Linked DNA regions of Homo sapiens. The protein of the gene in region 1 binds, or shares a complex with, the protein of each later gene. Each region holds a gene or a part of one and is shown in the gene's direction. Other genes may lie near its edges.

Region 1 (15,856 bases):
TGGGGTCATTTTAGGATTCTGCCTACCACATTGATCTCTTCTGTTTTTTTTTTTTTTTTTTTTTTTTTTTTTGGTTAGAGTTACATTCATCTGCATGCATCAGAAAGTCTAATTCTAATAGCTTAAGCAAAAATATATTTTTTCACATAAAAAATAGAGAAACAAATGATTGTTGATATCAGTTCAGTGGCTCAGTGACATCAGGGCCAATGACTGTTATTCTCTTAGCCTGTCCTTCCTATGATTATTGTAGCTCCAGCTGTTAAGACCATATTCAAGTTGGGAAAAAAGAGAAAATAAGAAGGATCAGAGCTGTATGAACTAATCTGTCTCCTTCATTGGGATAGCAAAACAAAACAAAGATAAAAAATACTTTTTAGAACTATATTTTAGAACTATATTTCAGAACTATATTTCTCACTGTATCTCCATTTTTGTTTAACTAGCTAGAAGTTGGTGAAGTTATCACCTCTAGGTGAAGATAGGAAAGCAGGAATAGGAATTATTGTGATTGGCTTAAACCAGGATGATGAGAAGAAATGGATGCTGGTGATGCAGTGAACACTGTCAGTTATACCTCATTTCTAGAAGGCAGAATGTGCTGTTGTGGAAAGAGTGCAGAATTTATAGAGTCAGGAGGTCTGTAATTCTGTCCCAATTCTGGGAGATGGTTAGCTCTGTGACCTTGATCTAGTCACAGAACCTCTCTGAGCCAGTTACTTTATCAAGTGGGAGAAATATTTGCTTTACTTATCTCAGGGTTACTGTAAAAGTGAATTGAAATAACCCATGAAGTTCTTTGCATTCTGGAACTATATACTAATTGTAATTTTTGGTAACTGGTAAAAAATAAGACAATTTCATTGATTCTAAGAAATATGTGTGTGTGTGTATAAATAAGTAAATATATATATATATATTTTTATATTTATTTTTATTTTTTTTTGAGATGGAGTCTCACTCTGTCACGCAGGCTAGAGTGCAGTAGTGCAGTCTCGGCTCACTGCAGCCTCCACCTCCTGGGTTCAAGCGATTCTCCTGCCTCAGCCTCCCGAGTAGCTGGAATTATGGGCGCACACCACTACGCCTGGCTAATTTTCGTATTTTTAGTAGAGACGAGGTTTCACCATGTTGGCCAGTCTGGTCAGAAAATCCTGATCTCAAGTGATCCTCCCTCCTCGGCCTTCCAAATTGTTAGGATTACAGGCGTGAGCCACTGTGCCCAGCCTTAAAAAATATTTTATCTTCTCTGAAATTAGATGAATTGTAAAATGCATCTAATTTATATATGGCTCTAAAATATAGATAAGAAATTATCCACATCAACTCCCTACTGTCACATAGACAAAATATTAGTATTCTCATTTCAAAAAAAATATGAAGTGGAGTTAAACCAAGATGAATGTACCAAGATGGAGTAAGTCAATGTCTTCTAAGAGTTCAAGGAACTGGAAAATGTTTTGCAAACTTTAAAGCCTGACCTCCTACCAGAGCCATTCACTAATGTGATACACTGCTCAGGTACGTGGGGATGTCAGTCAAGGTCACTGCCTCAGGAATGCACCAAAGATCAGAGGCAATGCCTAACCAGTTTTTCAAGCCAAGTGTAACTTAGATTCTTGACTCTGAATGTGGGGCCATGGAATTGTTAGATAGCAGAGCCATAGGGATTGTTGATTTTGAAGGAAAATCACACAGTAGAGTATTTTGTAATTATAACCTTGGGATATACATATATGTATGCATGTACATAAATGTGTATATTTATAAGTGTGTATACACACATATACACACACTCATACACACAAGTAATATGACTTTAGAGAAGGAAGCCACCTAGGGTTAGGAGATTATGCTGTGTGTGCTTGTAAGAGAAAAAGAAGAGGGAGTTCACTTATGGAGAATCATAGATAGATGCTAACTGTGGTCAAAGTATGACATTTGTTTCTTTTGGACTTCTTTCTCATACATGTTTGACTTGAGGCTGAGGTGTTCATTCTGTTCCCCAGTTTTCAATGGAAATTGGAAGAAGATTGGGTGGTCTCCTTTTGTTTTTTAAAATAAAATATTTAAATGAAAGAATGAAATTTTTAAACGTCGAAATAATAAGAGCAAACAACCAGGATTACTCAACTCATTTTCTCTTTTAGGAGCATCAAGGTACCTATTAATTAATGTGTGTGTGTGTGCGCGTGTGTGTGTGTGTGTGTGTGTTCTTCAGTGAACTCTGTTCAGGTTTTATTAATGAGAATTCAGGTCTCTCATCAAGGAAAAGAATGTGGAAGAGGAAAGGGAAGAGAAGCAGTATTCAAGTCCTTAATCTAATTTAGTCTTCCTCACAGGGTAATGGGGCCTTCCAGTCTTCTCTTTGTTCTAGCAACTTATGAAACAAGCAGCATGGTTATTTCAACTTCTGATTCAGCTTCTATGGCTCCTGTAGCCCACTGTGACACAGATATCAGTGTATGAAAGCTTGTTATTATCTTGTGTCGCTGTGCTATGCACAATTCTGAGTGCATAATAGATGCTCAATAAGGTAGCTGAATATCTTGCTTTAGAAGAACACTGTAAAGAAATATGTAGAATTTATGTAGTCTGTTTTTCCCATTCTTCCTTTCTTTGTAGCTTTTGATTTGACCTTTAGATGCTTGTCCTTATTCAAGAGAAAACTGAGGCCTTACTTGTGGGTTTGGAATGGACACCAGGATCTAGTTGAAGATGTTTCTGCATAAACTCCAAACAGATGACTGGACAGTGGTTGCCAATAGTCTCAAACCCAAAAAGTGGATGTGGCGATTTTCATAGACGCTACCTAGCTTAATACCTATGAAAAAGAGGTAGACAGGGAAGATGGCCAAAGATTTAACAACCTCTTTTGGATCACTAACCAGGCACAAGTAATGTTTTTGTATTATATAGCATAGCTAACCTAACAAAATAAATCATTTTCCCAGCTCTGGAGCAATGGAATTAATCTATATGGCTGAGTGAAACCTTCCTTTTATTCTCATATAATTTATAAAATTTCTGTAAAATTTCCAATTAATTTTCAGTACATTACTGTGAAATGACCTGTATTTAGATGTCTGAACTAGTCTCTTTTTAAAAGTGAACACAAGTCAGAAAGTAATGTTCCAGGGGAGGACTTCCAGTTCTGGTTATACTTGGTAACTAGCCCTTCTTCTGCAGCGAACAACCACAAAACAGCAACATCTATGAGGCAACTGTTTTCAGGCTTCGGTCAACAGGCAGCACAAGATTTTCTATCCTGAGGTGAGCCTGACACTCGCCTTGGCTCTTTTCCAGGGAAGAGTTTCGTGACTGCAGTGTGGTCAGCTGGAGTCTAAGCCAAGCACAGCAGTCATACTGAGCTAAGAAAACAGAGATCAGAGTTTGGGGCAATTGAAGCAGCTGGAATCTGCAGGACAGGGCACCAGAGAGCAGAGAGTTGGGGAGCAGAGAGCATGGGGATGGGGAGAGAGGAGCAGAAGTATGTCTGGGTGTACCCAGAGAACCGTTGGCCAGTTTAGAGTGCACAGGTGCACACTGAAACCATGCAGAGCTTAATAGAGTGGCTGCTGGAGGATTGAGAATGGGACAAAGATACTGGACATCAGGCAATAGTGGGGGACATTGGTGGTCCAGCCCAGCCACAGTGGAAAGAGCTCGTTAACGTCTTATTAACATCTCAAGCATCCAACCAAGTATGGAAAGCCTGTGTCTTAGGGGTAAGGATCATGTTCTCAAGGAGGGTCTGTAAATTTTTTTCTGTAAAGGGCCAGTAGTTATTATTATTGAGCAGTAATTATTTCAGTCCCTGTGAGCCATACAGTATCTGTCACAGCTACTCAACTCTGCTATTGTAGACCAAAAGCAGCCATAGACAATATGTAAACTAATGAGTGTGGCTGGTAAATATACTAATAATACAACTTTATTTACCAAAAAAGGCAGAGGGTCAGACTTAGGCTGTGGCTGTAGTTTGCCAGCCCATGCTCTAGAGTAAGATTTACTTTAAGCTACCCTAGCAAAGCCTAGAACCAAGCCCTGTGTGTTAGGGTTCTCTAAAGGGACAGAATTAATAGGATAGATGTATATATGAAGGGTAGTTTATTAAGGAGTATTGATCACAAGGTGAAGTCCCACAGTAGGCTGTCTTCAAGCTGAGGAGCAAGGAATCCAATCCGAGCCCCAAAACCTCAAAAGTAGGGAAGCCGACAGTGTGGCCTTCAGTCTGTGGTCAAAGGCCCAGGAGCCCCTGGCAAATCACTGGTGTAAGTCCAAGAGTCCAAAAGCTGAAGAAATTGGAGTCTGATGTTTGAGGGCAGGAAGCATCCAGCATGGGAGAAAGATGAAGGCCAGAAGACTCAGCAAGTCTGGTCATTCCACTTTCTTCTGCCTGCTTTATTCTAGCCACACTAGCTACTGATTAGATGGTACCCACCCAGATTGAGAGTGAGTCTGCCTCTCCCAGTCCACTGACTCAAATGTTAATCTCCTTTGGCAACACCCTTAAAGACATACCTGGGAACAATACTTTGCATCCTTCAGTCCAATCAAGTTGACGCTCAATATTAACCATCATACCCTGTCAAGATCTACAGGGGAGACAGAGTTTAGAAATTGAGTCCTATGGCAATTAGAGGGCCATGGGAAACAAATTAATCCAATGAAGTAAAAGACCAAGCTTTATACAAGCTCTAGGCGAGCAGCACTTGGTCAGACTGCCTGCTGGAACAAACATCAGCACTCTGCAGAGGAAAGTCAAATCCAGAAGGTCTTCAGTGTATCACCAACAATTATTAGGTATGCAAAAAAAAAAAAAAAACCTTAGGAAAGTAAAAACCTTAGGAAAATAAAAACCATAGTCAAGCAAAAAAAAAAAAAAAACAATAGTAACTAATCCCAAATGGTCTAGAGGTTGGATTTAGCAGGCAAAGTCTTTAAAGCAGCCGTTATAAATATGTTCAAAGAACTAAAGGAAAATATTGTCACAATGAGTGAATATATAAGGCATCACAGCAAAGAAATAGAAACTGTAAAATAACATTATAAAATGGAAAAGCTGAATAAGATACAAAATTCATGGGATAAGCTTATGGGAGAATGGAGATGAGAAGAGAAAGAGTCAGTGAACGCAAGGACAGATTAGCAGAAGAGATGGAAAAGGGGCAGAAAAACACATTTGAAGAAATACTGACTTAGTTTTTCCAAATTTAATGAAAAAATGGACATACAGATTCAAGAAACTCCACTAACTTCGAGTAAAATGAGTTCTAAGAAAACTACATCCAAATGCACTATAGTCAGTTGCTGAAAATGAAAGATAAAGAGAAAATATTGAAAGCCATTAGAGGAAAGAAGACACATTATATAAGCATGAGTAATTACATATAATCAACTGCTCATTAGAAACATTCAGACCAAAAGGCAAAATACTGAAGGAAAAATTCTCTGTCTTGTGAAAAGTAGCCTTCAAAATCAAGGATGAAATAAAAAATGGACTGCTTTAGAGCATTGCTGTCCAATAGGAATATACCATGAGGCCAGGTGCAGTAACTTGTGCCTGTAATCCCAGCACTTTGGGAGACTGAGGTGGGAGGATTGCTTGAGCCCAGGAGTTTGAGACCAGCCTGGGCAACAGAGTGAGACCCTGTCTCTACGGAAACATTTTTTAAAATTAGGTGGGTGTGATGGTGTGCACTTATAGACCCAGCTACTCAGGAGGCTGAGGTGGGAGGATCACATGGGCCTGCAGAGGTCAAGGCTGTAGTGAGCTGTGATAGTGCCCTGTACTCCAGCATGAGCAAGAGTGAGATCCTGTCTCAGTTAAAAAAGGAAGAAATATAGTGTGGGCTACTTATATATGATTTTAAATATTTTAGTAGTTTCATTTAAAAAAGTTGAAAGGAACTGGTGAAATTAATTTTAACAGTATGTTTTACTTAAGCTAATACATCCAGGATACCATTTTAACATGAAAGCAGTATAAAATTATTAGATATTTTACACCTTTTTATACTCTTTAAAGTCTGGTGTATATTTTACACTTAAGGAACAACTCATTCAGATTAACCACATATCAGTAGTCCCTATGTCTAGTGTCTGCTGTATTGGAATTGGATGATATAATTTTAGATCAAAGAGAAAGGGGAATGAACATATTTCCCTATATCTAGATTTTCTCCGAAGCTGTTTTACACATAGTGTTTAAATTAACCTTCCTAAAACATTTATTAACGTCTCAAAAGAGCTGAAGAGGCTACCTACTGTATGTTAAGGCAAATTCATTCATTCAGCTGGTTACCCAACAAGCATTTACTAAAAGCCATACCCTATTCTAAGAGTTAAAGACATCAATAAGCAAAAGATCAAGTCCCTTTCCTCATATAGCGACATTAGCAAATAATTTCATTATAATTTGGTAAATGAGTGTAAGTTAAGATAGTATCAGCATTCAGAAGATATGGGGGATAAAGGGCAAGTGGGAAGTGTGGTACTTTACTTATTGGAAGTTGAGGAGTACCACCATAGATCAGAGTTTTTGGTTGCAAGCAACAGAAATTAATTTTGGCTAATACAAGCAGGAAAGAAGTCTATTCAAGGGTATGAAAGAGCTCATTGGATTGCCAGATGACTCTCAAACGTGGCTTGGAAAATAGGTAGGAGCCATAGGACCTAGCCGGCAGTAAACAGAGACAGAGTCACACCATGGGTCTGGTTAGGATGCTGCACTTGTCACCATTGCCACGGAATTGAGTTGTGCCTGCTTCTGGGCTTGGGTCAAGTTTCCATTGTTCGCATGCCACTCTTGCATGTATTCAAGGCCCTTGTACCTTTTAGCATTCCCTCAATATTCTAGCAGCCGTTGACAAAGCCTGGATTAATTGCCAGGAGGGATGTAAAGATAATATTTTTTTTCTCGAAAAAGAAAGGAGTTTTGGGTGTTGAGTAGGCAAAAGACAATGAGCATGCATATTATAAAGGTTTTATGGCAAAATAATTTGTGTTCTTTATCTTTGCATTCAGTGATTGCCACTTGGCATAAATGCTTGTTGAGCCAAGCCTGAGATAATGATTGAGCTAAGACTTGAAGGTGAGCAGGAGCTCATGAAATAAAAATGTAGGGAAAATGTATCCCAAATATAGTATTTAATAATGTATTAATATATGAACAAGTGATCGAATAGGACAAAGTATATTAAAAAACACAGTCTTTCAAATAACTCAGTTCATCAGGAATATAGGATTCACAAGGGGAGAGAATGACACATGGGATTAGAGAGGTGGATCAGGGCCAGATTCACAAAGTGCCTGCATTTATACGACAATTTTTATTGAGCTGCTAACCTGTGCCAGGCACTATGCTCAATGCTGAGGGTATAGCATGCAACCCCTGCTCTCAGGAATCCTTTGTTCATTTCTCATACCTCATTTTATCCTGTGAGGAGACTTTGAGGAGCTGTAAGCAGAGCTGTAGCATAGCCATTTTCAGGTTTTAGGAAGATAACTCTACCATAATAGGCTGGATAGTAGGTTTGAGCAGGTGATACTGAAGGCAGGGAGACAGGTAGGAGACTTGCAACTGTCTGCGTGAGAGATCATGAGGGGCTGAGCCAAGGCATTGGCAGTGGGATTGGAGAGGGTAAGCTCCAGAGCTCAAACTCGTTCTGAAACTTAGAGCTCCTTTTCCAGGATGCTTGACACCCTCTTCAGATGAACAGAGTGTAACTCACTGTGGGCTAGACATACCATTCCTGCTCCCCCTTCCTGAGTGCCTGTGCCCCTCAGCTCTTTTGCTCAGACCCCTCCTTTCCGGCTTAGGGTACAGTTCAAGACCACCTATAGCTCAAGCTCTCAGAAGTCTCTTAACACTCTTACTTGCTGCTGTCCTACTTTTGGTGACTAACCACCAGAATAGGTTAGAGAGCAGAGGTTATTGTTTTAGGTTGCTGTGGTATCTCCCTGCAGTTGACAGCTGCTTGAGGGCAGAGATGCTGTTTTGTTCTCCCTTGACCCTCAGGCCCTAGAATGGGCAGAAACAGTACATGTTCCTGATGACTGTGCCCCCCAACTTTGTGAGACACACCGGAGGTACTGATGGCTGAAAAATTCCATCACCACGCTTCTGTCCAGCACTGTCTGAGGAAGGCTTATCTCCCTTAAGCACACTTCTTGAGTCACTCTCTGCTTTTAAACCTCCCACAGCTTCTCATTTCCCCTTGAACTCTCCTTAGCTTTTATGGTCAATCAATCCCTTCACTCCATATTCCCCCAGTAGATACCTCTGCTCTCATCAGACAGAGGCTTGTTCAGACAGAAACACACCTTGTTAAGGTCTGCTTCTGATTTTTACTGTCACTTGCGGTGATCCCCTGTCCAGAGGCTTCCCTCACTTGTCCCTCTGTTGGTCCAGAATCAAGGACATCCTTCACATCTCAGAAACCCACCCAGTCCCATATGGTTCCAACTCTCAGAGATCTCCCTACGGCTAAACTGTGGCAATTAGAGGACTGTCATAAGACAAAACTACTTCTATGACCCCCATCTTATCAGACAATTGCATTCTCCCTTCTACAAATTTTTGTATAATGCTGAGAAAGAAGTAGCTCTCTGAAATGGCAACTCCAAGACTTCAATGAAACTTTTAGCATCTGTTGGTCAATCCTCCTGCTGATACTGAGTCACCACTCATTTGTGGTGATTCTAAACCTCATTTTATGATTCACATTCTAAAAATGGGGTGAGGTTTTTACCAAGCAACTAATTCCAGTATGAACTTAACCTCACAATTATTGGGTTCTTCTGTGGGTTTCCAGCTGCTTAGCACAGCACTTTTCAAGGTCTGATTTCTTATGGCTTATTGGTGTGGCTCTTCCATGGCAAATACCTAAAATCCATTTTATGGATTTATGGTATGGAATATGATGGGGGGTTCCATGTGATCAATTTGTTCCACCAGTCTTCATTGGGACCACTCATTGTCTGTCACCAGCCCATGTCTGGTCTGGGACAAGTGAAGGAAGGATAGATAAAGTTTTGGGGCTCTTTTTTCGTTCATACGTTCTGAGGAATGGTCTTGGTACTTTGGCCAGAATGCACCTATATCTATAATGAAGAGGATTTAGAATCTGCCTTCTGGGCACTGTAGCTGAGCACATGACTCTACTTAGCATTTTGAACAATGACTGAAACCAGATTCTGCAAATGACAGAAATGCAGTGGTTTCATGAAATCTGCATTCCAGTCCCAAGACTTCTACGAACAAGTTACGCAACGTTGGGCGAGTCATTTAACAATAGCAGCAGTGCTGGCGATGGCTAACATTGGTTTGGAATGGAGCCTGGGGCACAGTAAGCCCTCTGTAAGGTCACCTGCTGTTTTCATTGTCATCGTTACAGAGGGTTTATTACATCCAGTCCTTAGTACTTGGCGTACATTATCTTGTTTAATCCTCGGAATTATGGAGTGAGTTTTATTATTCTTTCTGTACAAGGTTGAACTGAAGCTTAAAGAGGTTGAGTTATGAGTCCACGACTGTATAGGACTCCAAGACTGTATAGGACTCAAATCCGAACAACCTAACTCCTGGGCCTGTGATCACAATCTCTATTCGTGTGCCTGATTTCCTTGGGCCTCAGTTTTCTCATAACACCTGAAGTTGTTGATCTTTAAAACCTTTCAGTTTAAAATTTTTAAATATTTTCCTCTTACCTTCACCTTCGTCCCCTGTTCTCTTCCCTACCCCACTTATCCATGACTTTTGCTGGGTTCATCATTGCAGGATTGGCAGGATGTTTTCCCCATTGAGTGATGACACTGCATGTGTCAGCATAGGGACTTGTATTGTGGGTTTTTTTTTTTTTTTTTTTGACGGGTGCTGTGGGGCTGGTTTACATGCTGCTGTCGTTGAAAGAGGAGGAATCTGACTCTTCAATTTTACTGCCTTATCTTGGCCCGCAGCCATTACCACATTGAGTGACACACATTTGACAGGGCTTGAGAAAGTCGTCAAAGGCAGAAGCCAGTGGGAATCAGCTCTTTGTGCTTGTGGACCCTGCACTGCTCTCTGGTAAGATCTGGTTTGGGAGACCTGCTCTCTCCAGGCTGTTTGCCTATGTCTGGCCTTGTGGTTGGCAAGGATCCTAGGAGAGGGACTTGGAGAAGAGGCTTCTGGGCTTCCCATCCTTTATACAGCTTGGGGTGTGCTGGCAAACTTTCACATGGGGAGTTTCCCGGACATTTCATTACAGTTCCATTGTAATTGATATTTGTAAAGTACTTAAGTTGGGTGATAGTCTATATGTACTGTATTCTGTTGTACTTCTTTGCGGCTGTGACACCAGGGTTAGAGTGTTTTGGCTGCAGAAGACCTGGGCTCAAGGGTTGGATCTATCACTTAGTGTGGTGCTTCAAACACACCTGCTTGTTATGGCTTTTACTTGATTATTCTTTGGGTGAGATCTTATTATGAAGAAAAGTCAGCCACTGTGCTGAGATTTGTAAACTCTTCCACTTAGCCTGGAGGAAGCATTTTACCAAAAGGGCCTGGAAGCACTAAAAGTATTAGGTAAGTCACTTAATTTTTCTCAGCCCAAATTTCTTTATCCATAGAAGAATTAGAGTACTATGAGTCCTACTCATCAAAATGGCTACTGAATCAAGTGAAGTATGGTATGAAAATGTGTTTCTGAAAATTATAAATTCTATATAAACATTAGTTGTTTTTAGGAAGCATCATATGCCAAAACTGTTTTAAACACCAAAAAAGCAAAAGCTGTTCATGTTTTTACCGATTTTCCCACCTAGAGATTATTTACTGCAGATGATAACCTGTAGTAAAATTTCCTAAACTTTTCATTGTGCAGCAATTGGAAGACTGTGAGTTAAGTTGTTCTAGAAACTATCTGAATATTGTGTATATTTAGTTAATAAGAACTGATATTGTTCAAGGTATATAGTAGCTCTTCTATGGAAGCACATTAATTTTAGATAAATTCAGATTTTATTAATTCATTATAAATCATTATTAGATCAAGAGCTAGGTTCAGGTTGTAAAAAGATATTAATACCATGAACAAAATTATGTCAATTAAGAATCTTTCTGTATTCCTAGAACATAATTGCAGTGTGAGCAAAGGCTAGACCATTGTAACTAATTTAAATAGGCCTAGATTGAAAATGTTACTCTAACTCACATTTTTCACTACCACAGATGTTCCCTATCCTCTTACTCCAAATGAACAAGATCACTTCATTTCTATTTTTCTTGATTGATAAACCATGCTTGGAGATACCATCTGGAGATTGTTGGGTTTCTGCCAGAGATTTAAATCAGGTTTATAAAGAGTTACCTGCCTAAGGCAAGAAACTGGACTAATTTAATAGAAAAGAACATGCTTTTATTTTGCCAGCTAGTAAGAGAAAGTGAAAGCATTTTGAAAAGTTTTAATATTTGTTTAGCAATGATAGTATTATAGATGACAATATTTCTAAAATACAATAATTAGGGAAATTAGAGAATCTAATTGCTGAAATTTGTGTAATTATTTGCAAGTGTGATATGAAGGCTTATCTAGAAACCTTGATGCTAAAGACAGACATTTCAGTATAAAAGGTGAGGGCATGACAGGAACAGAGTGAAGTAAGGCAAGTTGGAAACCACCCCAAGCCTTCTTGTGGGCAGCGCTAAAAGCCCTAGACCTATGTGGATTCAGTGTAATGTGATGGTTATCCTTTTTAATTTTTTGTTTGTTTGTTTGTTAAACAGATTTCTGCCTGGCAGATTAACCAACGGCAAGAGAGGCTGATCTGTCTACATTCTGAGTACTGCCCTTGGCAAGACACCTAGAACAGACCCTGGACCCAAGTCTACCGTACTACCATACCCCTACTCCAGCCCACCCCAGACAGTATTCTGGGGTTCACCTGAGGTCAGCAGTGTGAAGATGACCAGTGCCTTTTTAGCATGACGACTTTGGACCATGTGATTGCCACCCACCAGTCAGAATGGGTCTCCTTCAATGAAGAGCCACCCTTTCCTGCCCACTCGCAGGGTAAGGAGTGCCTTCGTTTCCTAAAGTGAAGAGATTGTCAAAGAACCATGTCTATTTGTTATGGCTTCTACTTGATTATTCTTTGGGTGGGATCTTAATATAGAAAAAAGGGTCAGTTTCTCACTTTCTTTCTTGAGATCTTAGAATCCTAAGTGGAAGAATTTACACACTGAAAAAGCATCTTGGGAACCTTAGGGCCCTAAAAAGAGGCTTGGAAACACCAAAGGTAGTGGCTCTTTTCTCCCAAGAAACAAAAACTTAATATTTACCAAATACTTTACTCTCAGCCTTTTTAAAATGTAGTTATTAAAAGTAGTTGTTAAAAGTGACAGGCTCTGGAGCCAGAGTGCTTGGGTTCAAATCCCTGTTGCACCAGGGATGAGTGATATGCTTTTGGGTAGATTATTTATTTAACCTCTCCATGCATAGCTTCATTATCTGTACAGTAGGGATAATCAGTACCTATCTCACAGGTTGCTGTGAGGCTTAAGTGAATTCATACATAAAAGTGCTTAGAGCAGTGCCTGGCACGTGGAAAGAGCTCAGTACGGTCATCCTTGATCATAAGGAGGATGACTATATTGACTTTGGAGAACTTGTGCTCAGGGATGAAGGTCAAGGTAGGATCCAGGAGATATTTGCAGAGACATGTGAGTTGGTTCTGTTCTACTACAGCTACCAGTGCCAACTGAAGTCATCCCACCGTCATTTATAACACCTAGAAAGTGTGAGTCGACAGGTATGCTCTCCAATATGGTGGCCATGTGGTTACTGAGCCCCTGAAATGTGACAAGTCTGAATTGGGATGTGCTGTAAGCATCAGATACCTATGCTAAATTTCAAAGACCTAGTTTAAAAAAATTAAATAGCTAATAATTTTATATTTCTTACATGTTGAAATTATAAATTTTCAGCATTGGGTTGAAATGTGTATTATTAAAATACTTTCTCCTGTTGTGTTTAATTTTTTTCATGTGGCTACTAGAAAATTTAAAATTACATATGTAGCTCACATTTTATTTCTGTTTGACGTGCTGTAGAGGCTTTGAATACTTGCAGATGGACCGGTTGGCTAGTGATGGGAGAAAAGATTTTATATTAATTATTTGATTAAAAACCTTTATACAGAAAAATTGACTTCTTTTGTTGTACAGCTGATGAATTTCAGCACATGTATACATTTGTGTATCTACCACCATAATCAGGATATAGTTTTTTTGTTGTTGTTGTTGTTTTGAGACGGAGTTTCGCTCTTGTTGCCCAGGCTGGAGTGCAGTGGTGCAGTCTCAGCTCACTGCAACCTCCGCCTCCTGGATTCAAGCGATTCTCCTGCCTCAGCTTCCCAAGTAGCTGGGATTACAGGCATGTGCCACCATGCCCGGCTAATTTTGTATTTTTAGTAGAGATGGGGTTTTGCCATGTTGGTCAGGCTGGTCTCGAACCGCTGACCTCAGGTGATCCACTCACCTCGGCCTCCCAAAGTGTTGGGATTATAGGCATGAGCCACTGCGCCCGGCCAGGTTTTTTAATTTCCAAAAAAAAAATTTTTGAAGGCTGTTTAATTTTCTGGGGCCAATCAAGTGATACAGTGCTGCAGAAATAACCTCTAGGTTACATTCAGCTGGTCATTAGTGCACATGGGTTTGCACCTGGTGTCCTGTGGCTGTGTATAGCTTAGACTGCAAAGAATTTGAAATTTGAATTTGAATGTCTTCAGACAGAAGTGCTCTTGTTCAGCCACAGTCCCCACCAGTCCCTTTTGCCTTTCACTTGTCTCACTTGACTCAGGTATATTTCCTACTTGACCTCTGTAAGCACTTTCCTTTGTGACCCCCAAGCACTGGAGTAGATGCTGGCATAAGAATAGTGAAGAAGGCTCCTAGTCTCTGCCTGCCAGGATACTGACTGGAGACATGCTGAGCTTACAGCATTTACACATGATTAGGGAAACAGTCATTTAACATGCAGTCAGATGGGTGTGGCTCTTTCTTCTCCCCACTCACTGCAGTGGCGAGTCATGCGGGCACCCCATGGTCATCCTTAGTTTTTGCCTCCATGAGATGGCTCTGAAGAGCGGCCTTCCTCACATGATGGTGGCGTCTGGTATCTGTTTCAGGGGGCACGGAAGAGCACCTCCCAGGACTGTCATCTTCCCCAGACCAGTCCGAGAGCTCCTCCGGGGAGAACCATGTGGTGGATGGAGGCTCTCAAGACCATTCCCACTCGGAGCAGGATGACTCCTCTGAAAAGATGGGCCTCATCTCTGAAGCAGCTTCCCCACCTGGGAGCCCTGAGCAGCCCCCACCTGACCTGGCCTCGGCCATCAGCAACTGGGTTCAGTTTGAAGATGACACACCCTGGGCCAGCACATCTCCACCTCATCAGGAAACAGCTGAGACAGGTGAGGAGGTAGGAAGGGCCCGGCTTGGGTTTGTGGTCAGCAGGGATGCTTTTCAGTGAGAGGTCTATAGGGCTGCCAGGATTCCATTTCATCTGCCCCCTAACCCTGAAGCACTGGTCGCATAGGGGAGAGCAGACGGAGTTCTCATCTGGTTTAATTCTGTAACTTGTTTTTGTTGACATAAGCATACAAAAGAATGTATGTGTTCTAGGACATTTCTAGTCCTTTACTCTTGTCCCTGGCTGTTGACTTGTCTTTAAAATAATGCATATATATTTTTCTATTAGGGATTGGAATTATATTTACTCAGCCCCTAAACTGTAAGCACCTTACATACAGAAATGAATGTTTCTGCTGGGTGCGGTGGCTCATGCCTATAATTTCATCACTTTGAGAGGCCGAGAAGGGTGGCTCACTTGAGGTCAGGAGTTTGAGACCCACCTGGCTAACACGGAGAAACCCCGTCTCTGCCAAAAATACAAAAATTAGCTGGGCGTGGTCGTGCACTTCTGTAATCCCAGCCACTCAGGAGGCTGAGGCATGTGAATTGCTGAACCTGGGAGCGGAGGTTGCAGTAAGCTGAGGTCGCGCCACTGCACTCCAGGCTGGGTGACAGAGCTAGACTCTGTCTCCAAAAAATAAAAACAGAAATGAATGTGTGTTAAAGTGTGGACCACTGACCATGTCTAACCAAGTCACCAATAGGATTTGTTAAACATGGATATTCTCACACTTCAGAACTCTTGAATCCAAATCCTCATGGGTAGGGATGGTTGTTCATGAGAAATCTCTTATTTTGTGGCATTTCAATGGCCAGAAGCTGCACTGGGGAGCTTAGTAAAGCTGTAGGACTTGTTAGTCCCCATCCTGGTGACCTGGCTACTTCTTTATTGTGCACTGAAGTATGCCACAGGTGATTGGATAAGCTTTGGGACTGTATTAGTTTTCTATTTGCTGCTGTAACAAGTCACCACAAGTGTAGTGGCTTGAACAACATAAGTTTATCATCTTATGATTCTGTATTTCAGAAGTCCATCATGGGTGTCACCGGGTCAAAATCAAGGTGTTGGCAGGGCTGTGTTCCTTTCTGGAAGCTCTAGGGGAGAGTCTGTTTCCTGGCCCTTCCCAGCTTTCAGAGGCTGTCAACATTCCTTGGCATATGGCCCCTTCCTCTATCTCCAAAGCCAGGAATGTGGCATCTCTTTGTGCCTTTCTTCTGAAGTCACATCTTTCCCTGACATCTGCCTTTGTCTTCCATTAAGGACCTCTGTGGTTATGTTGGGCTCACCAGGCATTAAGGACCTCTGTGGTTACACTGGGCTCACCGGGATAATGTCCCCATCTCAAGGTCCTTAACATAATCACATCAGTAAAGTTCTTTTGCCATATAAAGTAACAT
Region 2 (15,330 bases), on another chromosome or scaffold:
TTAAAAATAAATAATTATATAATTATGTATAATATATAAAATATATTACTGATATTGATATGAACTATTAACATGATATGTTTGCATCTGTTTCATATAAAATACAGAGTTAAAAGGTTTAACTTTTCAGATAACTTTTAAAGTAACTTCATCAGTTGTACATCTGACTTGAGTTGCTAAAATGAAAGTTTTATTTTTTCATATGTCTAAAATTCTTAGGTATTTGTTTAAATTTTATTTCCACTACCCCATAGCACTTCATGGGGGATAGAGGGATAGCAGATAATTTGCCATTTTCAGTAACTTCAGTGATTTCTAGAAAACAGGACGTTTTCCTTGAAATTTCTTTTTAAGTAAAGCCAAGATTGCCAGCTCAAATATCCTTTAATTTCTAGATGAGTAACCTCGGATATGGCTTGCTTTGATATTTTTCTAAAATAAACCTTGGCACTATATTGCTCTAGTTTTGTTCACTTCATCCTTGCCATGCTTCAGCTGCTGCTATCTTCCTTTCTTTTGCTGTTGATGGCACTAGTAGGCAAGTAGACCATGATCAGGGGAATAAAGCAGAACTAGGAAAGCATCTGCAAATGTCTTCTGTCATTCACTGGAGGGAATGGCATTTGATAGTGCTGAGTCTGTGCACAGACCCAGGAAAGGATGTTCCCAAGGGCCACGTTTAGGAAAGAGAAAATTACCCAAGTTCAGCAGAAGACACTGTTTGTTAGGAGAACCTTCCACTGCTCTAGTTAAGGGCATGGCGGGGGAGGAGAGAGCAGGAAGAGAGAGAGAGGTACATCTGTTGCCTTAATTTAGTCTCAGGATAAGCAATCTGTACCAAAATAAAGTTGCTAAGTATATCTAGATGCTGATATTGATATTGAAATTGCATTGTGATGGTGGTAGCCTTACAAATAATTTTCCAGTGAAATTTGTTATTAGCATGTATATTTGCATGAGTTCATTTTGATTTTGTGCAGTTTAATAATTTTAATTCTGTATACTGGAAAGGAAGGCCTTTTTGTATGTAGTTTAGTGTTGGAATTTTTTTTTTTTTTTTTTTTTTTTTTTTTTTTTTTGAGACGGAGTTTTGCTCTTGTTGCCCAGGCTGGAGTGCAATGGCACGATCTCGACTCACTGCAACCTCTGCCTCCCAAGTTTAAGTGATTCTCCTGCCTCAGCCTCCCAAGTAGCTGGGATTACAGGCATCCGCCACCACGCCTGGCTAATTTTTTATTTTTAGTAGAGACGGGGTTTTTCCATGTTGGCCAGGCTGGTCTCGAACTTCTGACCTCAGGTGATCTTCCAGCCTCAGCCTCCCAAAGTGCTGAGATTACAGGCGTGAGCCACCACGCCTGGCCCAGAATTTTTATAGACCTTTTTTCATATTTAGAAATAGACATAGAGAGACATTAATTATAATGAATTTTAATATGGACATCGTTCCAGCTTGAAGTTTCTCATTAATGTTAGGTATTTCCTCAGTAACCTTTCCTTTAAGTCCTGTAGTTTTGTATTACTATGTGGATTTTTACTGAAGCTAAGAAATGAAAAAGGGCAGTGAGTCTGGGAAATTTGAATGAATGTGTTTGCTCTTTGGGAGAGAAAGGGCAGAAAGAAGTAAATATTATATTGGTTTGTTTATTTGTCTTCCTCTTACATAAGCCTGTCTTTTGAGGTTGTGTTTAAGTGGCTCACTAAAAATATTATTTATGAAAAATAGTTCAGTTTATTAAAGGAAACCAGCATTGATTCTATTATTGGTAGTTCTTACATAAAAATTTAGTCACATCAGAATATTTTTGTATTGGTATTTTTATATTTTATATTGGTAGCAATGTGATACTTAAAAAAAACAGCAAACTTGACATTTTCTGATTATAAAAGTAACATGGGTTCATGGTAAATTTGTAAAATGAAGAAAAGTATGAAAAAGATGTAAAAAGCCTTTCTAGAGAGAGCTATTGTTAACATTTTGCTGTATTTTCTACAAATATGTATAAATTTCTTTATATTAATTTGTGATCATACTGTATATGCCTCTGTATTCAGCTTTTAAAACTTAGTATCATGTCCTAGACATTTTCTTATATTGTGTGACCCTTTTAAGGTAAATTGTGTTTTTTGTCCCTGGATTTACAATAAAAGACATCAAAATTACATCTGGCTTTAAAGATATTATTAGAGACATGAAGTAGATAAAGAATATTTTTCTTTGGGGTATGAGGGAGGGTGGGGAATATGACTAGAGTATTTACTAATGGGGATAGATAACATATTTTTCCTATTCCCACTCTTGAACATTTTTAGTTAAAGGGAAAGAGAAAAAACTTTTTTCCCTCTAGGATTTAAAACATGCTTTTGGGACCAGCATATTGTTATATAAACCTATATAATAATTTTATGAACAAAGTAAGGAATTCAAAATAGATTATATTTTCTTTTTTCTTTTTTTTTTTGAGATGGAGTTTCACTCTTGTTGCCCAGGCTGGAGTGCAGTGGCGCCATCTTGGCTCACTGCTGCAACTTCTGCCTCCTGGGTTCAAGTGATCCTCCTGCCTCAGTCTCCCTAGTAGCGGGAATTACAGGCGGCCACTACCACGCCCAGCTGATTTTTTGTATTTTTAATAGAGATGGGGTTTTACTATGTTGGCCAGGCTGGTCTCGAACTCCTGACCTCAGGTCATCCACCCGTCTCAGCCTCCCAAAGTGCTGGGATTACAGGCATGAGCCACTTTGCCGGCTCAATAGATTGTATTTTCAAACTAACAAAATTACTTTAGATCTGCAGGTAACATTCTTTTAAAATATTTTATAGCTGAACTAGACCAAGCACTGTGGCTCATGTTTGTAATCCCAGCATTTTGGGAGGCCGAGGCGGGCAGATCATTTGAGCCTAGGAGTTTGAGACCACCCTGGGCAACATGGTAAAACCCCATCTCTACAAAAAAATTTAAAAATTAGCCAGGCGTGGTGGCACATGCCTGTAGCCTCAGCTACTTGGGAGGCTGAGGTGGGAAGATTACTTGAGCCCAGGAGGTTGAAGCTACAGTGAGCCGTGATTATACCACTGCATTCTAGCCTGGGTGACAGAGTAAGATCCTGTCTTAAAAAAATAAAGGTATATGCCACAGTGACATGTTAAAGCAGTAATGATTATTTCCAAATAATGAAAGTTTTAAATGTCAGATCAGCCTTGGTCTATAGATTATAAAAATACTGAATCAGTTTAGAAATGTAGGTATTATTTTAAAAAGTTTAAAAAGCATTTGTCATAGGTCAGTTTGGGGTATTAATAAATAGCTATAGTTTAAATACATAGTGAAGTGTTTCACATTATGTAAAAAGAATGTAAGTCTTTTCTTTCTGTCAGTCTCATGCGTGTTTCCCATTAGTTTTTCCCACATACTAAAATCCTATGATAGTTACAGTAATTGCTTAATTAAGCCCCTGGAATGTGCTAGGCATTGTACAAGATTTTGGATAATCAAAGAAAGATGAAGCATGGACACTGTCCTTTAGAAGTTTGTAATTTAGAGGTTAGCTATGATTACAGTGTATTAAGTATGACAGTAGAGGTTAGGAACAAACAGTAGAGTTTGAGCATAGGTGAAGGAAGCCCAAGATGAGTCAGACGAGATTAAATTTGGCTGGATTCTGAAGAATCAATAGTGGGTTTCCAGGTACATATGGTGTGGAAGGACATTGAAGACAGAGGTTATGGCTTGTGGAAAGGCATAGGGTCATTGAAATATGTTGTCTATTGGAGAAGGAATAGGGTCTTCTGAGGCTGGGACACAGGTGAATATGAGAGGAAAAGAAGGTAGAACCCAGAACTGAAGGTTTTAATGTGTCTTGCAGCAAGTTTTACTTAATCCTCTAGATAAGAGGGAACAACACATATTTTAAAAATAACAGTGACTAGAGAAATATCCTTTGCAGTGAGTTATTTTTTAAGCAAGTTGGACATTTGGAATAGGAAGAAACAAAGGGAGAAAACCCAGTTGTATGTCAAGGAAGGAACGATGAAAGCTAAAATAATTTGGTAAACAGCTTAAAGAGAGATTTTAAGGTAGAATCTATAGGACATGTATGAATGGAGAAAATCAAAGATGAATCTGAAGTTACTAGACTGGGTGATACAGAAATTGAAGTCATTTTTCTCTTTTGGCATGGGTTTATTCAGAGCCAATGCCATGTGCATATCTAAAGTCGTATCTCTATATGGTATGGATTAGTTAACAGTGTAGGCAAGGTTAAAAATTTAGACATGAAAAAAATTAGGCATGCTGGTAAATTAATGATAAAGTACTAAAGGAGTTCACCAGTTTGAAACTGTGATCACACAAACTCACGGAATGTTAGCACTGGAAAGTCTTTCATGATCATCTATTGTGTTGGCATTTTTAAAGGAATTTTTAAAATAAATTATAGTAAATAATTGATAAACATTTTTGTCAAAGGAATCAGAAAGAGAACATCTAATTCTTTTTTATTATTATTATACTTTAAGTTCTGGGATACATGTGTGGAACGTACAGGTTTGTTACATAGGTATACATGTGCCATGGTGGTTGGCTGCACCCATCAACCCATCATCTAGGTTTTAAGCTCTGCATGTATTAGGTATTTGTCCTAATGCTCTGCCTCCCCTTGTCCCCCACCTCCCGACAGGCCCCGGTGTGTGATGTTCCCCTCCCTTGTGTCCATGCGTTCTCATTGTTCAGCTCCCACTTATGAGTGAGAACATGTGGTGTTTGGTTTTCTGTTCCTGTGGTAGTTTGCTGAGAATGATGGTTTCCAGCTTCATCCATGTCCCTGCAAAGGACATGAGCTCATTCTTTTTTATGGCTGCATAGTATTCCATGGGATGTATGTGCCACATTTTCTTTATCTAGTCTATCGTTGGTGGGCATTTGCATTGGTTCCAAGTCTTTGCTATTGTGAATAGTGCTGCAATAAACATACGTGTGCATGTGTCTTTATAGTGGAATGATTTATAATCCTTTGGGTATATACCCAGTAATGGGATTGCTGGGTCAAATGGTATTTCTGGTTCTAGATCCTTGAGGAATCGCCAGACTGTCTTCCACAATGGTTGAACTAATTTACACTCCCACTAACAGTGTAAAAGCGTTCCTGTTTCTCCACATCCTCTCCAGCTTCTGTTGTTTCCTGACGGGTTAATGAGAGAACATCTGATTCTTAAGAAACCTAGGCAAAGCAAAACTCTATATAATACAATAAAGAAAAATTCAATTTAGAAGGGGCATAAGCATATTTAACTAAGATTTAAAATGTACTTATTTCCTCATTTAAAATTTCTTCTCCTTCAATATTATAATTTCAAGTCTCTTAAAATAAGGACTGAATTAAAATACAGAAATTGTTTTTCTTCCAGAAATCAAGTGTCCCTGTATCTTAAATTCTCTGTACAGTTCCATTTATCAGTCCTTTGTGCAAGAGTTAGCAATTCATGGCACAAGGGTCACTTTTTGCCTTTCTTTGCAGAGTTGATGATACTCATCAAACATTGTCCGAATTCCTCAAGTATCATTGAGGAATTCAAAGGCTACTGCCTTTGAGTTTCCCTTTTTGTCTGCCTGCTCTGCCTGGGCTTTAAAGGAATTTTTTAAAGAAAGCAACATGATATTTTTAGACTAACCAGTTGGTTAAGAAAATATAAGATAAAAAGCAATTATTGAAAGCATTGTTCAGTGTTCTATTTAATCACAGAAACATCTGCATATATTTGAAAAATAGTGACACATGTGAGACATTTAGTCTGCAGATGGTATGTCACATGGTGGTTAAGAGCTCAGGCTGTGGAGTCAGAACCCACTTTGAATCCATAGCTTACTATTTTTAACTTTGGACACATTACCTACACATCAGTACTTCAGTTTTCTCATCTGTAAAATATGAAATGATATCAGTACCTAACTCGTAGATCTGTCATATAGACTATAAATAAGTTAGTATATTTAAAGAGCCTAGAGCACAACCTAGCACATTTTAAGTAGCATTTAAAGTGTTGGCTATTATCATAATGGTGCTATCTTGTGTAACCTATGCAGTAATTCAGAGACCTTTTACCTGTAAGTTTCTCTTCTGTTCTTAGATTCTTATTCTGGTGAATGACTGTTGGGACCTTTGAATAGATATTATTTTTAGAAATTTGTGTTCAGTTTTACCTCACCCGCTTTGAAATCTTTGCCTACCTCCTGCTGACAGATACTTCGGAGTTATTAATCCCTGAGCCACTGCGCCTGGCTTTTTAAAAATTTCTGTAGTTCTTGTTATTAAGCATGAGGTCTGGTATGTACATGGATGAATAAATAACATTTTCAAAATGGTTCTTTTTTTGTTTTAAGAAATCTTTTCCTACACTGAGATCTGCATTTCTTCTACACATTTTAAAGTTAGACTTTTACATTCAGGTCCATTATTTACCTGGAATTAATTTTTCTTTTTTTTTTTTTTGGAGACAGTGTCTCACTCTGTTGCCCAGTCTGGGCATGCTGTGGCATGATCACAGCTCACTGCAGCCTTGACCTCCTGGGCTCAAGAGATCCTCCCATCTCAGCCTCCCAAGTAACTGGGACCACAGGCACGTACTACCACGTCCAGCTAATTTTTTTTTTTTTGAGATGGAGTTTCACTCTTGTTGCCCAGGCTGGAGTGCAATGCATGATCTCGGCTCGCTGCAACCTCCACCTCCTGGGTTCAAGCAATTCTCCTGCTTTAGCCTCCCGAGTAGCTGGGATTACAGGCATGCGCCACCACGCCCAGCTAAATTTTTTTTTTTTTTTTTGCATTTTTGTTAGAGACAGGGTTTCTCCATGTGGGGTTTTTTTTTGACCAGAGAATCTGAGAGGGGAAAGATTGAGCTTAAAACAGATTTGTGGGGAAATTCCAGGAGTTCTATTTTCAACATGTTAGCAAAGCCCATCACATGTCCAAGGACAGATTTGAGTTAGCAAATTGAATATCTAAATATGGATTCTAGGAAAGATGTCTTCAAGTAAAGATTGTATTTAAAGCTGTTAAGTACCCTAGTCTCATCAACACAGTATACTCAGTAAGACTTTATTCTTTCTTAAGGTAGATTTAAAATTACTAACTTAACCCTCCCCTGCCCGCAAAGAAAATAAATATATTAATTTTCTTGGATTTTAGGATCTTCAAGATGAAGTTCAAAGGGAGAATACTAATCTGCAAAAACTACAGGCCCAGAAACAGCAGGTACAGGAACTCCTTGATGAACTGGATGAGCAGAAAGCCCAGCTGGAGGAGCAACTCAAGGAAGTCAGAAAGAAATGTGCTGAGGAGGCCCAACTGGTAATGTCTGGCTGTTTCCTGCTGCCTGCACCTATACATTAGTTGCTTTTCCTGGCTTAAGATGAAAACATTCTCTACTTTTTGTTATTGATGGTGGTGGTTGGCAATCCAGTCAGCATTTGGGTTCATGGGGGCGATGGAGCAAGGTTCATCCAGAAATTACAGGCCTTCTTTAGAGGAAATAGAAGGGCAGTTAATGAACTGTTTTTCCAAATTTTTGTTGGAAATATGGTGCCTATACCTTCAACTCTCCTCTGTCCCTCCCCCAGTTACCCTTCTTTACGAAAACCATACATCAAAAAACATCATAATTGGCTGGGCACAGTGGCTCACACCTGTAATCCCAACACTTTGGGAGTCTGAGGCGGGGGGAATTGCTGGAGCCCAGGAGTTGGAGACCAGCCTGGGAAACATGGAGAAATCCCATCTCTACAAAAAATATGAAAGCTGGTTGGGTGCAGTGGCTCACGCCTTTAATCCCAGCACTTTGGGAGGCCGAGGCAGGCGGATCACGAAGTCAGGAGATCGAGACCACGGTGAAACCCCGTCTCTACTAAAAATACAAAAAATTAGCCAGGGCGGTGGCGGGTGCCTGTAGTCCCAGCTACTCGGCAGGCTGAGCCAGGAGAATGGTGTGAACCCAGGAGGCGGAGCTTGCAGTGAGCTGAGATCACGCCACTGCACTCCAGCCTGGGCAACAGAGCGAGACTCTGTCTCAAAAAAAAAAAAAAAAAAAATTGAAAGCCAGGCGTGGTGGCCCACATCTGTAATCCCACCTACTCGAGAGGCTGAGGTGAGAGGATCACCTGAGCCTGGGAAAGTTGAGCCTGAAGTCTGAAGTGAGCTGTGATCGTGCCATTGCACTCCAGCCTGGGTGACAGAGTGAGACTGTCTCAAAAAAATAAAACATCAACAACAACAACAACATCAAAAACTCCATAATAGGGCTAGGTATGGCTGGGCATGTTCCTATAGTCCCAGCTACTCAGGAGGATCACTTGAGCCCAGGAGTTTGAATCCAGCCTGGGCAACATAGCAAGACTCTCTCTCTCAAAAATTAAATTAAATAAATTATTTGCTATTGCTGTCAAAAAAAACACCAAAATAGTAAACTAAACAAATAAATGTATTGCATTTTGGAACATTTTAATGACATCTCTTCTTTTAATCCCCATTTCTTCTCATTCACTTTCACATTATAGATCTCTTCTCTGAAAGCTGAATTAACTAGTCAGGAATCGCAGATCTCCACTTACGAAGAAGAATTGGCAAAAGCTAGAGAAGAGCTGAGCCGTCTACAGCAAGAAACAGCAGAATTGGAGGAGAGTGTAGAGTCAGGGAAGGCTCAGTTGGAACCTCTTCAGCAGCACCTACAAGATTCACAACAGGAAATTAGTTCAGTAAGTCTTTGTAAAGCAAGAAATATATTCAAATGGATCCTCTGTGTCCTTTAGTCAGTTATACTTTCCAACTTCTGCTCCTTCAACCTCTTGCCTAGTTTACTGTTCATTTTTCAGTCATTTTATACAATAGGTTTTTTTGTCACCTGTTATATATTGAAACTATCATACATCTTGTATATCTATCTGATGATTATCATTGGAGTAGTGATTAAGAGTGTGGGCTTTGTGGCTAGATGGTCTAGGTTTAAGTACTGGTGTGCCACTTACTAGCTAAATCACCTTAGTATCAGATTCTTCATCTTCAAAATTGGAGGATTAATAAATACCCTACCCCTTAGGGCCACTGTGAGGATTAATGAGGCAAAACCTGTAAGACATTTTAGCATGGTGCTTGGTACATAAATGCTCCATAAGTGTTGCCTGTTTTATAAACAATAACCTAGTTTCTTCTGTTTTGTGATTCTAATTTTGAATTCACATTTGCTAATTTGGAAACTTTTTTCTTAAGGAAATTGTTCCTTCTGTAGATAAATTTGCAGTGTTATAGTTGGTCTTATGTATAGATCCTTTGCTTTATTTCCAGGTTTCCCTACATGAAGACTAATGTTTTAATGAATGATAAGATAGTTAGGGCTCGGCATGGTGGTGGCCCATGCCTGTAATCCCAGCACTTTGGGAGGCTGAGGCAATGGATCACTTGAGGCCGGGAGTTCGAGACCAGCCCTGCCAACATGGCCAAACTCTGTTTCTACTAAAAGGTACAAAAATTAACTGGGCATGGTGGTACCTGCCTGTAATTCCAGCTACTTGGGAGGCTGAGGCACGAGAATCACTTGAGCCTGGGAGGCAGAGGTTGCAGTGAGCTCAGATCACACCACTGCACTCCACCCTGGGCAACAGAGTGAGAATCTGTCTCAAAAAATAAAAACTAAAAAAAAAAGGATAGAAACACAGAGATCATGGAGTTGATTTCTTTCATTATGAATTTGAACAAACTAAAGCCAAGGAAGTTCAAGTAACTTTCTCAAGGTTACATATCCTTGAAAAGAGCTACATCTAAAATCCAGTTCTTCTAAAACCCAGTCCAGTGTGCTCAGTTATTACATATAATGAAGTCCTTCACTTTTGCGCTTCCTTACCCCCTGTTATCTGGCAGCTGAGTACCTACCTACTCATTCGTCATGCAAGATATACCTTAAATTCTTATTTCTTTATGGTATTTTCTGCATCCTGCTTTTGTTGGACTTTGTATTTATGTTACAGCAATAATAAGATTTTTCCCTGCATATTTGCTTATATGTCTGTCTCCCCTAGCAGAGTCATGGTTTTGGTCTGGGAACTTACACATTTTTAAAAATCCGTATCATTTAGCACAGTTCTTGTCCCAGTGTAGGTACTCAATAAACAGGTAACCTGAAAGAGTTGTTGTAGTGAGAATGCTACCAGATGAATGGGTATTCTTTAAAGTATTTTCTTTTTTTGAATCTCTTTAAAAAAAAAATCCATGTATACTAAAATTTCAAGAGAGAAATACTTATTGTCAGAAATTACTGAATCTTTTCTCTAAGTCACGTAGCATTCCCAGAGGATTCTTCTTAAAGGAAGCAAATGTATCCTAGACCAAGTCTACAGGTATAGCCATTTTTATTTTATTTATTTTTTTGAGACAGGGTCTCATTCTGTCACTCGAGTGCAGTGGTGTGATCATGGCTCACTGCAGCCTTGACCTCTGGGCTCAAGTGATCCTCCCATCTCAGCCTTCTGAGTAGCTGGGACTACAGGTGCACTCCATCATGCCCAGCTAATTTTTATATTTCTTGTAGAAATGAGGTTTCACCGTGTTGCTCAGGCTGGTCTTGAACTCCTGGGCTGAAGCAGTCCTCCTGCCTCAGTTTCCCAAAGTGTTGAGATTATAGGCATGAGCTACCACACCTAGCCCGTCAGGAAGTGGAGGAGGGCGTTTTTATGTTACATGTCTTTCTAGTAATAAATTCTGTTCTATATTTCTTCTTTGTGTTGGCAGATGCAAATGAAACTGATGGAAATGAAAGATTTGGAAAATCATAATAGTCAGTTAAATTGGTGCAGTAGCCCACACAGCATTCTTGTAAACGGAGCTACAGATTATTGCAGCCTCAGCACCAGCAGCAGTGAAACAGCCAACCTTAATGAACATGTTGAAGGCCAGAGCAACCTAGAGTCTGAGCCCATACACCAGGAATCTCCAGTGAGTCTAATACTTTCATAACCTTCATAATCAACCTCCTTGTGCAGATCCAAGTTTCACTGACATTATATCTAATATAAATACATGGCCTTGCCTCATCTGAGGACAATTGAGATTTCCTTTTTAGAAGCAGAGAGTCCTAATCCAAACAATTGTACGTTTTAACTAGTATAAAAAGATAACTTTAGCTAATTTTTTTTTTTTTGGAGATGGAGTTTTGCTCTTGTTGCCCAGGCTGGAGTGCAGTGGTGCGATCTTGGCTTACTGCAACCTCCGTCTCCTGGGTTCAAGCAATTCTCCTGCCTCAGCCTCCTGAGTAGCTGGGATTACAGTCACGTGCCACCACACTCAGCTAATTTTTTGTATTTTTAGTAGAGATGGGGTTTCATCATGTTGGCCAGGCTGGTTTCGAACTCCTGACCTCAAGTGACCCATCTGCCTCGGCCTCCCAAAGTGCAGGGATTACAGGCGTGAGCCACCACGCCCAGCCAGCTAATTTATTTTTTGTAGAGCCTGTTTTTAAAATGGTGGTTCTATAGAGTAAAACTTTTTTTTTAAGTACCCTCACCAAAAGCTAAAATTATTTTTATTACGTAGTGTTAAGGACATTCATTTACCAATTATTTGACGAGTACCAACTATGTGCAAGAGTGCTGTATTACATAATATAAGAGCTACAGAGACAAGAGACCTCAGTCTTTCCTTCAAGCAGCCTACAGTGTAGTAGTGTAACACTGTGTTAAAGGGCTGTGCTAAAGGAAGCGCAGAATTTTCAGTTAGGACAGTTTGGAGGGGGTTCATAAAGATTTTGTTGGGGAAAGCTTTGCGAGTTTAGACAAGTGAGAAGTGGTTAAGCAAAGAAGAGGAGGATACATTCCTGCCAGAGAAAACAGTATTAGTATAGGTACAAGGTGGAAGAATACATGCAGCACAGAATCTTGAGAAGTTCTGAAGGATATCTTGTGATGGTGGAGAGGGTATTGGTAAGAGATGAGGCGCTTCTAGTAGGCATCTGCATTACCTCTGGTGATTGTCAAAGTATAAATGTGTATCCCTTTCCCCAAACTTGCTGAACTAGTTTCTGGGATAGAGCCAGATATGTATATTTTAAAAACACACTCTATGGGTGATTGTCATGTGCACCTGGATAAAAATGACCAATTTTAGGTCAGAAAGTGCCAGAAGATGAGAAATTTAGATTCATCTTAAAGCATTGGGGGATTTATCCTACTGCAATGAACAGCCATTGAAGAATTTTAAGCAAGAAGTGACGTGATTAACTTTTAGAAATGTGGAAAACGGATTAGAGAGTGAGACTGTACCCGTAGAAGGGATAATGAGAAGAATAGAAGTTTGAGAGGTATTAAAAGTGAAAAGTTAACAGACTCGATTTTATTTACACAGTGCAGTCATGTATGCATTATAAAATATTCTTTCAAGCGCAAAAGGCAGATTACTAGGTTATCCTGCAAATAGATAAGGGTGGTATAAAGTAGCTATTGCCCTGCTACTTTTTTTTTTTTTTTTGAGACGGAGTCTCGCTCTGTTGCCCAGGCTGGAGTGCAGTGGCGCAATCTCAGCTCACTGCAACCTCTGCCTCCTGGGTTCAAGCTATTCTCCTGCCTCAGCCTCCCGGGTTTAAGCTATTCTCCTGCCTCAGCCTCCCGAGTAGCTGGGACTACAGGCGTGTGCCACCACACCTGGCTAATTTTTTGCATTTTTAGTAGAGACGGGGTTTCACCGTGTTAGCCAGGAAGGTCTCGATCTCCTGACCTTGTGATCTGCCTGCCTCGGCCTCCCAAAGTGCTGGGATTACAGGTGTGAGCCACTGCATCCGGCCTGCCCCTACTACTTCTTAAGTCTTTCACCCACTCGTCTAAATGAAGAAGACAATGGGAAGCCATTGAAGGACTTTTAACCAGAAGGGTCACGATCACATCCACATTTTAGAGCTATTAGTTTGGCTACAATAAGGAGAAGAGATTGGAAATACATGTATTGGAGGCAGGAAAGCAGTTGGAAGGAAGACTGCTATAGTAATTGGAACCAAAGATGATAGTACTATAAGTGATTGATAGTGACAGTGAGGATGGAGAAGAAGGCAAGGATTTGAAAAAGAGGTAAGAGGTAGACTGAGCAAGACTTGGAGTCATATTCTGAGGATTAAAGATGACCTGAAGGTTTCTGACATGAGTGACTTTGATGCTTGATGACACCATTTCCCTAAAAAAGATTATAGAAGGAGAAGTTATTTGATGAATACATTCTGCTTGTCTTTTTTTATTTTTAAATAGTTTTTGGTTATCTTTAGTCAGTTTTCTCTGCCATGTCAAAAAGTATATTGTTAATCTACTTGCATTAATATTTTGTAGGCAAGAAGTAGTCCTGAACTACTGCCTTCTGGTGTGACTGATGAAAATGAGGTGACTACAGCTGTTACTGAAAAAGTTTGTTCTGAACTCGACAATAATAGACATTCAAAAGAGGTAAAAAATGATTTTATATTTACATTGGGGACTTGTAAGGGTGGAAGGACAGGAGGAGGTGAATTATCAGACATTACTTAATGGGTACAATATACATTATTCAGATGATAGATACATCAAAAGCCCCGACTTCACCTTTAGGCAATATAGCCATGTAACAAAATTCCACTTGTGCCCCTTGAATTTATACATATAAAATAAATAAATGTTCTTAATAGCTGGATGTGGTGGCAAGTGCCTGTAGTCCCAGCTACTCAGGAGGTGAAGTAGGTGGATTGCTTGAGCCTGAGTTGGAGGCACTAGGCAACATAGAGGGACCTAATCTCTAAAAATTAAATGATATTTTAAAAAAATGTCCTTATCACTGTTTTCCTCAGATGAATTATACACTATTTTAGGTGAAGGAAAGAGAAAAATATGTTAAGGTGAAGGAAAGAGAAAAATGTGTTAAAGGTGCTTTATGACTAGAGAGATATTTGTTACATTACCATCAGTTGATTTTCCTTTTGTTTTCAAGACCAAGTCTCACTCTGTCACCCAGCCTTGAGTGCAGTAGTGTGATCTTGGCTCACTGCAACCTCCACCTCCCAGGTTCAAGCAATTCTCCTGCCTCAGCCTCCTGAGTAGCTGCACATGCCCAGCTAATTTTTGTGTTTTTGGTAGAGACGGGGTTTCACCATTTTGGCCAGGATGGTCTCTATCTCTTGACCTTGTGATCTGCCCACGTCAGCCTCCCAAAGTGCTGGGATTACAGGTGTGAGCCACCGTGCCTGGCCCATCAGTTGATTTTTCAAAGCATGTGTATGACCTGAATGTGTGTTATTTTATTTTAAAATGTTACCTTTTAAAACTTTGGTTTCTAAAAAATAATTTTAATTTAAAATTATTTTTAGGAAGATCCATTTAATGTAGACTCAAGTTCGCTGACAGGTCCAGTTGCAGATACAAACTTGGATTTTTTCCAGTCTGATCCTTTTGTTGGCAGTAAGTACTCTTTTTTTTATATTATAGATTTACCCAAAAAAAAGACTTTTTAATATATAAACTAAGGATTCAAGGCTTCAGTTTCAATAGCCTACCAACTCAGTCTGTCGCCCAGGCTGGAGTGCAGTGGCACGATCTCGGCTCACTGCAACCTCCGCCTCCTGGGTTCAAGCGATTCTCCTGTCTCAGCCTCTTGAGTAGCTGAGACTACAGGCGCCCACCACCACACCCAGCTAATTTTATGTATGTATGTATGTATGTATGTGTGTATTTATTTATTTATGTAATTAATTTATTTAGAAATGGAGTCTCGCTCTGTCGCCAGGCTGGAGTGCAGTGGCACAATCTCGGCTCACTGCAACTTCTGCCTCCCGGATTCAAGCTAATCTCCTGCCTCAGCCTCCTGAGTAGTTGGGATTGCAGGTGCCTGCCACCACACCCAGCTAACTTTTGTGTTTTTAGTAGAGGCGGGGTTTCACCATGTTGGCCAGGATGGTCTCCATCTCTTGACCTCGTGATCCGCCCACGTTGGCCTCCCAAAGTGCTGGGATTACAGGCGTGAGCCACCGCGTCTGGCCTAATTTTTGTATTTTTAGTAGAGACTGGGTTTCACCATTTTGACCAGGCTGGTCTTGAACTCCTGATGTAAGGTGATCCGCCTGCCTCGGCCTTCTAAAGTGCTGGGATTACAGGTGTGAGCCACTGCGCCTGGCCTGCTTTGTATTTTCCTACTGACTAATGTTGAACATCTTTCTAGATGCTTATTAGCCATTTGTGTATCTTCTTTGGAAAAGTGTTTATTCAATTTTGGTGAAGTCCAGTTATCTATTTTTTCTTCTGTCACTTGTGCTTTTGGTGTCATCTAAGAAACTATTACCTAAGTCGCAAA

What was found.
Region 2: the proteins of STON2 (region 1) and EPS15 are in contact, whole or in part, in an NMR structure (PDB 2JXC), measured with the Homo sapiens proteins. Residues at the interface, in NP_001353779.1 of Homo sapiens: Trp309, Arg310, Ala311, Thr312, Asn313, Pro314, Phe315, Glu318, Gln321, Asp322, Gln324, Pro325, Ser326, Ile328, Asn329, Pro330, Phe331, Phe334, Phe335, Glu337, Gln338, Glu339, Arg340; in NP_001972.1 of Homo sapiens: Leu139, Gly148, Lys152, Pro153, Val154, Leu155, Leu156, Asn157, Ser158, Lys159, Val162, Asp163, Leu165, Gly166, Arg167, Trp169, Glu170, His176, Gly178, Met189, Val192, Tyr193, Leu196, Glu197, Lys198.

The regions. Positions count from the first base shown.
Region 1 is NC_000014.9:81,394,495-81,410,350, reverse strand, and holds the start of STON2 (stonin-2), read left to right. Parts: upstream 1-10,026; 5' UTR 10,027-10,072; exon of another isoform or gene 10,073-10,570; intron 10,571-11,770; 5' UTR 11,771-11,968; coding exon 11,969-12,056; intron 12,057-14,172; coding exon 14,173-14,457; intron 14,458-15,856. UniProt on the Homo sapiens protein: Adapter protein involved in endocytic machinery. Involved in the synaptic vesicle recycling. May facilitate clathrin-coated vesicle uncoating.
Region 2 is NC_000001.11:51,401,546-51,416,875, reverse strand, and holds part of EPS15 (epidermal growth factor receptor substrate 15), read left to right. Parts: intron 1-7,179; coding exon 7,180-7,341; intron 7,342-8,543; coding exon 8,544-8,741; intron 8,742-10,767; coding exon 10,768-10,971; intron 10,972-13,343; coding exon 13,344-13,457; intron 13,458-14,350; coding exon 14,351-14,441; intron 14,442-15,330. UniProt on the Homo sapiens protein: Involved in cell growth regulation. May be involved in the regulation of mitogenic signals and control of cell proliferation. Involved in the internalization of ligand-inducible receptors of the receptor tyrosine kinase (RTK) type, in particular EGFR.